Regions from separate parts of the Homo sapiens genome. Here region 2 is linked to region 1. The links come from fine-mapping of genetic effects on gene expression. Tissue or cell type: pancreas. Region 1 holds a variant in brackets; the other region holds the start of a gene. All regions are shown on one strand. Distances are between the middles of the regions.

Region 1 (6,162 bases):
ATAGGCATGAGCCTATAATAGGGGATTATAGGCATGAGCCACCGTGCCCAGCCTTTTCATAACTGTTTCAATGTCTTTGTTTGCTATCCTAACATCTATGTTATCTGTGGGTGGTTTCAACTGATTCATTTATGTTTCCACTCTAGGTAGTATTTTTCAGGTTCTTTGCACGCCTGATAATGTTTGATTGGATTACAGACATTGAGAATTTTACAGTGTTGGATGCTAGATATTCTTCTATTTCTGTAAATAGTGAGCTTTGTTTTGAGACACAGTTAAGCTAGTGGGAAACCGTTTAATCCTGTAGGGTCTTGCTTTTAAGATTTATTAGGCAGAACCTGATAAGGGCTCAGTCTCAGGTCGGTTATTACCCACTGCTGACACAAGACCATTCTGTGTGCCCTACTCAGTGCTTCTTGAATCATTAGATTTTCCAGTCTGATTGATGGGAACAGGCACTATTCTTCCCCCGTGTGAAGCCTGGATACCATTACCTTTAACTGTTTCGTGTGGTTCTTTTTCTATTTTCCTTTAGAGGCATCCTAAGGATTCTGGTGCCTTCTCCTGGGTATTTGCCTTTCTTAGTTTATGCCCTCGTTTTTATGGAGCCCATTCTCAATTAGCTTCCACAAAATGTATACATAAAAAGTAAAGATTGTGGGAACTTGCATATCCTTATGTAATACTGGCTTAGTAATTTTTCCAAATATAGAAATTTAGGTTGAAATTATTTTCCCTCAGAAGTTTAAAGGCGTTTTTGTATCATTTTTTAGCTTCATGGGTTGCTGTGGAAAATTCTGATACTTAAGTTTTCTATGTGAACTGTTTTTCAGTTTTAGTTTTTAAAATATCTTTTCTCTTTAATCCTGGTTCTGTGATAAGCTGTGATGTGCAATTTGTTTTGGTCATCAAGGGCATTCAGTGGCCCCTTTGATCTGGAAATGCAAGTCTTTTGGTCCTTAAACTTTTTTTTTTCCTTTGGAAATGTTCCACTCTCTGTTTTTTCCAGGAATTGTGTTAGACGATTGTTAATTAGACCTCTTCGATTGCTTCCTCAATTTTCTTTTTTCAAATTGGCCTATTTTCTTTGCCTTTTTATTCTACCTTCTTGGAGATTTACTTGATTTATCTTCCAATTCTTCTATTAAATGTTTTATTTTACTTATCATGTTGCTAATTTCAAGTTTTTTTCATTGAAAATTTTTTTCTGGTTCTCAATCATAAGAGTCTTTTCTGGATATCTCAATTATTTTTTGTTTGTTTGTCTTTAGTCTCCCTAGTTCCCTACACTAGCTTTGTCTCCTCTAAGCCCTCTGTTCTGTGTGGTTTTTTTTGGTCCCTGATATTCAGTGGGGAGGCTTCGCCAGACCTCTGCTAATTTCTGCTGTCTGCTCCTATGGAAGAGTGAAGAATCATTGATTTGATTGGAACTCTGTGGGTATGGGCAGAGCTTGTAGGCTTCACTATAGGTGATTGGACAGTGACCTAAGTGTTTTGATCTAGATACGATACCCCCCAACTGTCAAAATTGGTTTCTTTCCTCTGTAGCCGCTCACTTCCTCTAGAAAAGAAGTGTCCTGCTCCAGGAATTAAACGTGGCTGCTGATATTCTAGTAGCCAAGTGGGGGAGGAGGGGAAGGTAGAGTCCTTGTTATTTAGTATATAAACTTTCACTTATTTTCCCAGTTTTCAGCCTGGCTCCTTATCATGCCTCCATTCTACAGGTGCCCTAAGTTTAGTGGCTTTCTGCTTCAGAGAATAAATCACCCTGTGTCCTATGGATATTTGAGGGCATACTTGCCAGGTGTGTAGGCATGGAGAAGACAGACTTTGAGACGCAACTATTTCTTTTTTTTTTTTTTTTTTTTTTTTGAGACGGAGTCTCGCTCTTTCGCCCAGGCCGGACTGCAGTGGCACAATCTCGGCTCACTGCAAGCTCTGCCTCCCGGGTTCATGCCATTCTCCTGCCTCAGCCTCCTGAGTAGCTGGGACTACAGGCGCCCGCCACCACGCCCGGCTAATTTTTTGTATTTTTAGTAGAGACGGGGTTTCACCGTGTTGGCCAGGATGGTCTCGATCTCCTGACCTCGTGACCCACCCGCCTCGGCCTCCCAAAATGCTGGGATTACAGGCGTGACCCACTGCGCCCGGCAGAGACACAACTATTTGTTAATCAGACTTCCAATCATTCTTTCCAGTTTTAGTCCCCATTTTACTACCTGGGCCCACAGCTTCTGAGCTGCTCTGTGATTCTTTGGGAGAATATTGGCTTGCTGAGTTAATTATACCTTCTTCATCTCTTTTTCAGCTTTCAAATATGTGTTGAAATCTCTCTTCTACTGTTGACTCCTCTTTGCCTTGTGAGTTTATATCTTTTTAAATTCTTTATTGCCATCATAGAGGGGTTTTGGGAGGAGGCAGACATACAGACATGTTGTGTTGGCCATATTTATCCACAAATTCTACAACAGGTTTGAAAGTGTGCGACTGATTTCATAGGCAGCTTTAGTTGTGTGATGTTTTCTAAGCTGAAATTCATTTTAACTTCATGATTACTGTTTCTGGAATCAGCAGAGAAAAAGAGGGTTATAGTATCCTTTCACACATATCTGAAATATAGAATTTAACCTCCCCTCATTCAACTACAGGCAACAGTTTGGTGTATATTATTCTAATTGTTATTATTCTTTCTAGATATAGAAGGTTTATTGTTTTAATTTCTAAAATGGATCTATATACTTTTTACAATCTGATTTTTCCCCCATTGGATTTTTTTATATCAATACACATGACCTAATTCTTTCCAGTGACGAGGTAGTAAGTATTCCATTGGAAAATGTATCAAAATTTGTATTATTATTATTATTTGAGACAGAGTCTCACTCTGTTGCCCAGGCTGAAGTGCAGTGGCATGATCTTGACTCACTGCAACCTCCATCTCCCAGATTATATCATAATTATTGACCAAGCATTGCATTTATTTCTATTTGTCACTATTATGCTGCAATGAATATAACATCACCTACAGATTAAATTCCTGGAAATAAAATATTTGGTCAGAGAGCATATTATTTTCAATTTTAATAGATATAGTTAAGTTATTCTCTCCCAAAAAAGACTGTAGTAATGATCTTGACTTGTTTCCCAAATTATTTTATACACGTACACTCGT[GTACACACACA/G]CACACACACACACACACACTTTTTAAATGTGTTGACAGATTAGCTCTGTTCAGACTGTCAGTAACTTGCCTCTGGACTTTAAAATGGTGGCTGCATTCTGAGCTCAGCAGTGTTTCCTACCTTGTGCATCTCAAATGCCACCAAGCTGATCTCTAGCTGGCCATGTTAACTTTCTGCCCCACAGGTTTATGCTGGAGAACATTGTTCAAGTTGTGTCTGCTTCACTTCCCCAGGAGTCCAGAGCACCACCCACCCTACCTTCCCTGCCTTCTTCTTCTTTGCTATTTTACTTTAGGTGCTCATGAAATTTCCTTTTTTTTTTTTTCTTTTGAGATAGGGTCTTGCCCTGTCACCCAGGCTAGAGTGCAGTGGTGCAATTACGGCTCACTGTGGCCTTGACTTTCCAGGGTCAAGTGATCTTTCCTCAGCCACTCAAGTAGCTGGGACTACACACCTGTGCCATCACACCCAGCTAATTTTTTATTTTTAGTGGTGATTGGAGTCTCACTATGTTGTCCAGGCTGGTCTCAAACTCCTGACCTCAAGCAATCCTCTCCCTCTGGCCTCCCAAAGTGCTGGGATTATAGGCATGAGCCACCATACCTGGCCAACATTTTCTTCTTTTCTTTCTCTTTCTCTTTCTTTCCTTCTTTTCTTCCTTGCTTGCTTTTTCTGCCCAGGCTGAAGTGCAGTGGTATGATCATGTCTCACTGTAGCCTCAATCTCCTGGGCTCAAGGAATCCTCCTGCCTGTCTCCTGAGGGACTGGAACTACAGATGTGCACCAAGTAGTCAGCTAATTTTTTAGTTTTTTGTTTTGTTTTGTAGAAAGGGTCTCACTATGTTCTGGCTGATATTTTCAACTTAAGAAATGAATTTCTAGGCTTCAGTAACCTAAAAGGGCTCACTTATTTAAAACTCACTGATATCTCAGTGAAAATCTTAGTTGAAAAGGTGAAAATGTGCTATAAGTCTTGGTCTCATTTGAGTGCTTTTCATAGAGCATTTGAAAACCAAACACTTGAAAACCCAGATGAGAATACATCTGTGTGTGCTTTGTGGTTCTTCATTCTTCTCTCCTTTTTTCTTTTGTAGCCCCATCAGTAGCACCTTTAAATGTCACTGTGTTTCTGAATGAATCTAGTGATAATGTGGACATCAGATGGATGAAGCCTCCGACTAAGCAGCAGGATGGAGAACTGGTGGGCTACCGGATATCCCACGTGTGGCAGAGTGCAGGGATTTCCGTAAGTCTAAACCCTAGAAGAGCACGATTAGTCATCTCCTTTCAACTTGCTGGTTTACTTCAGTTTTAGAAGCTTTCATTTGGTTTTGAAAAGACCTGGTGTGATTGAGTTAGGCAAGGCACCTTTCAGGGGAACATAAAGAATATAGTAAATATTAGAGGTGACTGAACAGTTACAAAATTCTAAGGTATCTTTTGGGACTTTCCTCACTTACTCATTCATTCATTCATTCTTTTACTTATTCATGAGATAGACATAGAATTCATCCTCTGTTATCACCTGACTTTTGCCCTCATGGAATTTAGGCTCTTATAGGATGACAGTGTGGAATACCCAAGTTGTAGCATTAGGTCAGGGAGCTACAGGGCTTAGCAGTCCAGCAATTCATGGCCTTTTGGAAATTTCATGGGACTTTGCAAAAGAAGAAGATAAGGGAATAACCTCATCCTCATAGAGAATGGCAAGAAGTAAGCAGACACCAAAGGAGGAGACCGAGCAAGCTCTCTGGCCAGCCTGGCACAGCTGCGGGCAAGCCGAAATTAGACATCAGAATTACTGGATCAGGACATGCAGTCTGACACTACATAACACAACCAGGTGCATCAGCCAGGTGGCACAGGTTCCCTGCTCCACCAAGTCCCATTGGGCAATGTGATGTACCCACTTGGTGGATTGTGCACCTGAGGGTACTAGGGTCAAGGGCTCAGCACCCTGTGTAGTGAACAGCAAACAAGCTGATCCTCTGTGCAGTTGCACGGTCGTCATGCTGTGGCCACCTTGACCTACTTCACTGCCCACGTGACTAGCCCCAGCATGGCTCGGGGTTGGGGATGGTTAGGCCTTGCAGTTTGTCACACTCAGCAAGGATGAACAAAGATGCTTGGAGCCTGTGGCAGACTGCCTCTCCCAGAAAAGGTGGTACTTGAATTGGGCTTGTGTGTTAGTCAAGATTCTTTAGAGAAACAGCTAATTGAACATGTATGTATAGAAGGAGATTTATGATAAGAAATTGACTCATGCAATTACAGAGGCTGAGAAGTCTCACGATCTGCCATCTGGAAGCTGGAGACCCAGGAGCCAGTGGTGTAATTTAGTCAGAGTCTGAAGGCCTGAGAAACAGGGGCAGTGGTGTAGATCTCAGTCCAAGGATAGGAGAGTACTGATGTCTCAGCTCAAGCATTCAGGCAGAAGAAAAGGGGAGAATTCCTCCTTTCTTTACCTTTTGTTCTTGTCAGGCCCTCCATGGATTGAATGAGGCCCAGCCACACTGAAGAGGGCAGTCTGCATTATGAGTCCCCTGTTTCAAATAATAATCTCACTGGAAACACCTTCACAGACACACCCAGAAATCATGTTGAGCCACATAGCTGGGCACCTCTGTCACCCAGTCAAGTTGACACATAATATTAACCATCGCAGCTTAGAGTAATTTTGACAGATGAAATTTGAGGAGTCTCAGATGGGAAAAGATAACATGAGAGAAGGCACAACGTGGCAGCTTTAAATTCTGACTCACTTGAAGGTCTGGAACATAACGCTTTTGTGAGAGCGAGGTGTGAGATGAAGCTGGATTGAGGAGTTCTGACCCTAAAATGCAGGGCCCTGAAAGTGAAGCCAAGGCAGGTAGAAATTTGTTGATAGCAGGGGAGCCAATGATAAGCATGAGCTCAGGAGCACAACTTGAGACTTACAGATCATGATGATGACCTAGATGATTCTTCTTTCATGAATAA
Region 2 (6,162 bases), 82 kb before region 1:
CTGCCATGCAAGACTTCCAGCTACTCCAAGGCCACCATGGAGAAGCCTAGTTTAGGTGCTCCAGTTAGTCTGCAGCCCTAGTGCCCAAGTCATCCCAGTGCAGATGGCAGCTATGTGAGTGAATGAGCCTTGAGATCGGGGTTAGCCAACTTTTTATCTAAAGGGCCAGATTGCATGGCTTTGTGGGCCACATAATCTCTGTCACAATTACCAACATGAATGACTGTGTTTCGATAACGATTATTTGCAAAAAGAAGCCATAGGCCTGCAGGTTATAATTTACTTTACATGATTCTAATCCCCAACCATTTGAGCCTAAGGTCCCAGGCAGATATGGAGGAGCAAGGACAACCTATTTCCCCTGTGCTCTGTCCAAACCTCCGATCCACAGAATTCAGGAATCTAATAAAATGGCTGACATTTTACTCCCACTATGTTTGGGGTGGTATATCAAACACCGGTAGATAGCTGAAGAGTATTGTACAAGGCAGGCCTCAACAAGAAAGTGAGATTTGAGCTGACTTGGAGGAGAGCCAACTGGGAAGCTGTGTGTCTAGGGGAAGAGCATTTCAGGCAGAGAGAACAGCCAGTGCAAACCTTTGGGCGGAGGAGTGCTTGGTATATGTGAGCAATAGCAAGGAAATTGCAGGAGAACAGCTCTGCCGAGGTGTCCTTGGCAATCTTGCACATCTCTCGAGGCCATGTAGGCAAGGTATGACCACGGTCTGACCCAAGTCTTGTTGGACTGCCCTGTGATTTCCCCTAAAGCAGGGATGGGTAAGCCTGGTGAGGAGCCACTGGTAGGCAGTTTCCTATCCCTACCCCATGGGAGACTGCTGCAAGGCCATTTCTCTTCCTTCTCCAACGTTTCAGTTGACTGCAGGACTTTCCATATCCCTCCCTCCACCGCCCAGCCCGCTTCCCTCCAAGCATACAGCGGCAGGCTCCTGTGAAGTCTATAAAACTGCTTGGTGTAATTTAGACTTGGCTACTCAGCGGCAGGGCTCATGTTGTCTTATTTATTTATTTATTTATTTATTTATTTTTGTTAAATTATGTAGACCCATAGGATAACACTGACCCTTCCAGTTTGGTGTTATCTTGTAGGCCTAAGGATGCATGGAGCTGACACCACACTGATTTTGCTTTTGCTGTCGGTGTAAGTAATAACCTGTCTAAACCCATCTGGGCTGCCTGTCTCCTTCCCGTAGCCAAATCTACGGGAAGTGTCCAGCCAGTGTAGGGGTCAAGGGACCGCTTGACGAGACCAACGTAAATTGAAGAGGCGTAAGGAGATGAGGCCAAAGAGGAAAGGGGACCAGGTCACGTAGAACCTCGTAGACCACTGCAGAACCTTGGCTTACGTACGCAGAGACAGCAGGAACCACTGATAGGTTTAGGGAGATTTGAGGAGAGGGACATGATTTGGCTTATGTTATGTTGTTAAAGGGACCACATTAAAATACATTCATTCTAAAAGTGTTACCTTTAAGAAACTACGTATATAAATTAAGTTACTGTTGCCATTATTAGCGTAAGTAGTTACATTTCTCTTACGACTCACTCTCTGCTACTGCCTCTTGGACCCTGCACACCTTGTGGAGGCCCATGAGAGTGACGTGCTGTGGTTCCCCCTCTCCCCACTCCTGCTCTGCACTTTGTCATTCACGTTCATCTCCCTCCTTGAGTGTCACCTCTCTCTGGCTCGTCACGGAGCCACGGCAAAGCGTCCTTTCCCAGGAACCCCTCCCCCTGGGGAGGTGAGCTCCTCGCCGCCAGGGCCGTGTCGCGCACCTCGGGCCGGGTACCCAGGCGGCGCTCGGCGGCGAGCGGAATGGATGTGGAGGAGCGCTCGGCAGGGAGCGCTGCCGCCCTGGCCTTGGCCTCTGGGAGCGGCGCGGCCAGGGTTTTCTGTGTCAGCCAAGCCCGGAATGCGGGGGCGCCTCTGGACCCTCCTCTTGGGTCTGGGGGCTGCCTCGGGCATCCTCTACTCCTCTCCCACCTTCTGTCCTTCCCCATCTCCCACCCACACGTGTGGGGCCCCGGACCCGCGCAGCGGCCAGAGCCTTCCGCTGTGGACCTCCAGTCCACCCCTCCCCTTCACTTCTCTTTCCGGCTCCCTCCGGGTCTCTCAGCCCCCTCCCCTTCCTCTCCGCCCCCTTCCCCGCCGTCTGCCCAGCGGCGGCCTTCGGCCCGCCCCTTCTCTCCAACCCCCTCCCTTTCCCCTTTACGCCCCTCCTCCCCCTCGTCCTCCCGCCCCCTCCCACCCCAACCTGCTGGGCCCGCCGGGACTCGCCCCCCTGCCCGCTCCTCTCCTCCAGCCCCGGCCGGCCTCGGCTCGGCCCCCGGCCCGCCCCTTCCAGCCCTCGGCACCTCCCGCCGGCCGCTTGGCTCCGCCACTCGGCACTCACTGCCCGGGCCGCCCGGACAGGGAGCTTCGCTGGCGCGCTTGGCCGGCGACAGGACAGGTTCGGGACGTCCATCTGTCCATCCGTCCGGAGAGAAATTACAGATCCGCAGCCCCGGGATGGGGCCGGCCCCGCTGCCGCTGCTGCTGGGCCTCTTCCTCCCCGCGCTCTGGCGTAGAGGTGAGTGCGCCCGGCTGGGGGCCAGGCGAGGGGGTGGGGGCTCCCAGGAGGAAGCAGGGGCCTCTGGGGAGGGAGCGCGTCCACAGGGGCGCGCCTGGCTGCTGGACAAGTTTGCAAACACCCTCCACCCACTGCGGTGCCAGAGGAGGGGGCGTAGGCGAACCTACCGTCCACTGACCGCGGCGCCTCAAGCGTCCCGAGGGCACCCAGCCTGGCTTGCGGGTGCGCATCGTGGTGAAGCCGGGTCGGGGTCGGCGTTGCAGGCTCCCCTCTTCACCGCAGAGGAGGAAATCGAGCTCGGCCGGGCGCGCTGCAAGTCCTGAAGTTCCGACGAGTGGAACGTAGGTAGCAGGTCTGGTCTGGGATGCGACGAGAACTTTCCACTAGAGTTGCATGGTGGGGCCCCGCTCTGGCCGGAGTCCCGGGGGCCACAGATCCGGTCTCCCGAGGGACCGGCGCGGGGCGAACGAACGGGCTGCGGGAGTCGGAGCCGCAGTCCGGGAGCCGCGATAGACTGAGGCCGAGCGACGGGCCAGGGGGGGACGGCAGTCCTGGCTGCTCCCAATGGGCCCTTACGGGCATTATTAGTATCCCTTTTTAGGGGCACCCAGAGAGTGTGGGAAAAGGGGAGCGTTCTTTTCACTCCTGTTATGGCAGAACAGAACTTACAGTGCTCGGCAGCGTTTACGTTTATCTGGATTCAGCGAAGTGTTGTTACAGGCTTTTTTTTTTTTAATTTGAGACCGAGTCTCGCCCTGTCGCCCAGGCTGGAGTGCCGCGGCGCGATCTCGGCTCACTGCAGGCTCCGCCTCCCGGGTTCAAGCGATTCTCCTGCCTCAGCCTCCCGAGTAGCTGAGACTATAGACGCGCGCTACCACGTCCGGCTAATTTTTGTATTTTTAGTAGAGACGGGGTTTCACCATGTTGGCCAGGATGGTCTCGATCTCTTGACCTCGTGATCTGCTCTCCTTGGCCTCCCAAAGTTCTGGGATTACAGTCGTGAGCCACCGCGCCCGGCTTGTTCCAGGCATTTTAATACAAGATGCTGGACTGATACGTGGAGGCAAGGAAGGCCGGTTTCATTCTGCTTGAACAGCTTATTTGGGGAGTGAGTGATGAACAGATTTCAAGTTTGATCGCTGATGCACTTCTTGAGGAGGCTGGAATAAACTTACCAGGCTTTACCCAAAAGAAAAAGAAAGGGGAAAAATGCTAAATAAACACATTCCAAGTATTTTCTCTCAGCTAAAAGGTTTCTATTTCCATTCAGCATGTAGATTTTCTCTCTTTTGATCGAGAATGCACTTGACTAGCCTTCACCTATTACAGTCAAAGATGTTTTTTAGGAATACCTGGAAAGCTCAGTTTATAGTCAAGTAAGTTACTTAAAAGTTTTTCCTTTGAGATTTTCCTTTGAAAGCTCATTTACTCAAATGAAAAATTCTTAAACAGTGCACCCACTTTTTGCACGTTAAATTACATAAGCAATTTATAATTTGGGGCAACATAGCAATTTGAAACAAACTTTAAGAGCCAGGCAAAGAACTAAAGCAGTTCTGTTCTCCACTGCCCCTCCCTCCACCAAACCTTCAAAAATTCCTCAGCATTTCTGCCAGCCCCATTTTTCATAATCTGCTGCAAATCTGTTATTTGTTGCTACTAGTGAGGACTGGCCGTGAATAGTCTTGGAGGTAGTGAATGTGGTGAGAACTATGGAGAAAGTAATGGGAACAATAGTTTTGTGTTAAATACTTAAAAATTGGAGTGCTTTTGTTTTTCTAAAATTTTAAAAGGCTGTAATAACAAATTTTTGTAGCTGACAATCAACTTTAATCAGACAATCATAAAAAGGCCTTTTAAAATCCACCCAGCTGGAAGAATGAAAAGTTTCACCAATCGTTCTTGCACTTTTTGCTTTTGGTTTTGAACTTTACCTATGAGATGTGTGACAGTTTTACATCTCACCTTGTGAAAAGCTTAAAGAATGGGATTCTCACTGGCAGAATTACAGCACAAAGGAGTGCTGTATGAAGAAATTAAACATGGAAATTAGACTCTTCATCTAATTTTAAGATTTTCCTATTACACATTGTGGGTCTGAGTGCTTTGCTGACCACACAGGGGAGACAGAGAGAGAGACAATGAGAATATGTGTGTAGATTCTACACTGTTAGCAGTATAGAAGAATGGGTAAATAAAATTTAAGCATCACTTTAACCCAGGAAATCCCCTCTGCCCCCCAACACACATACACACTACACGTCTCACAAAGACATGCACACACAGAACTGGAACTGCCAAACCAGGAGCATTTCGAGGCTTTCCAGTCTTTCCTTTCTGCTCAGTCTCTGATGGGGGTGCCATTGAGCAGCAAAATGAGGCAAGCGGTGGCTCTCTGAAGGGCCAGGGAGAGGATGGAGCAAGATAAATATAAATGTGGATAAAAATGAATGCATTATGAGGACTTAGCTCATGACGAGGCTGTGTGTGCAGCTAAACTCAACCCTTAGAGTAAATTAGGCTTTTAAGATTCTTTAATGTTAATATTTCTTTTCCAAACTGATATTGTAACATGTATTCCAGTATATTGTAAACATCTTCCCAGAGGGAACTTTTAAGTTGTTCTGTTGCTTGTGGGCTTTATTCCAAAGGCTTCAAATGCTTTTTGAAAGTACATCGTGCATATTTTAAAAATGAATACTTTTAGAAAATTATTCTGACCCATTAAAGTGCTGAGTGGAATTCTTTTCTTTTCTTTCTTTCTTTTTTTTTTTTTTTTGGCAGGTTCTCATTCTGCCACCCAGGCTAGAGTGCAGTGGCACCATCACGGCTCACTGCAACCTCAACCTTCCGGGCTCAAGTGATCCTCCCACCTCAGCCTCCCAAGTAGCTATGACCACAGGCACATACCACCATGCCTGGCTAATTTTTTATTTTTTGTAGAGACAGGATCTCACTATGTTGCCCAGGCTGGTCTTGAACTCCTGGGCTCAAGCGATCTTCCCACCTTAGCCTCTCAGAGTGTGGGGATTATAGGCATGAGCCACCATGCACAGCTGAATACAATTTTTAAAAAATTAACAATAATTATGTTTTTTTGTTTTTGAGATAGAGTTTCACTCTTGCTGTCCAGGCTAGAGTGCAATGGCACAATCTCGGCTCACCGCAACTTCCCGCCTCCCGGGTTCAAGCAGTTCTCCTGCCTCAGCCTCCTGAGTAGCTGGGATTACAGGCATGCACCACCACGCCTGGCTAATTTTGTATTTTTGGTAGAGACAGGGTTTCTCCGTGTTGGTTAGGTTGGTCTCGAACTCCCAACCTCAGGTGATCTGCCTGCCTTGGCCTCCCAAAGTGCTGGGATTACAGGCATGAGCCACCACACCCAGCCAATAATTATATTTTTAAATCTTAATTTTTGAAATAATTTCCAGATAATTGTAGAAGGGCCAGTGAGTTACTAGTCAGCATTGGTCAAGAAGAGGTTCAATCTTTTTATGCCTGTGAATTGGGAACATGCTGCTGGGTAGAAAAACTGAGCTGGGACCTTGAACACACATGTGAAACAGTCGCTTTC

Evidence for each region. PIP is the estimated chance that this variant, and not a neighbour inherited with it, causes the effect.
Region 2: MERTK starts here. The variant in region 1 is fine-mapped to the expression of MERTK in pancreas (GTEx, PIP 0.95).

What each region holds. Positions count from the first base shown.
Region 1 is chr2:111,978,565-111,984,726 of GRCh38, forward strand. MERTK (MER proto-oncogene, tyrosine kinase) reads left to right here. Exons shown (of 19, transcript NM_006343.3): 8 at 4,278-4,429. Among named protein-coding and RNA genes, the nearest start is that of TMEM87B, 74 kb to the right of the region's middle. The variant GTACACACACA/G (reference allele first, on the strand shown) is at 3,173.
Region 2 is chr2:111,896,209-111,902,370 of GRCh38, forward strand. It overlaps MERTK (MER proto-oncogene, tyrosine kinase), which reads left to right and starts at 2,399. Exons shown (of 19, transcript NM_006343.3): 1 at 2,399-2,588. The coding sequence starts at 2,528. RefSeq lists an enhancer at 1,538-1,867.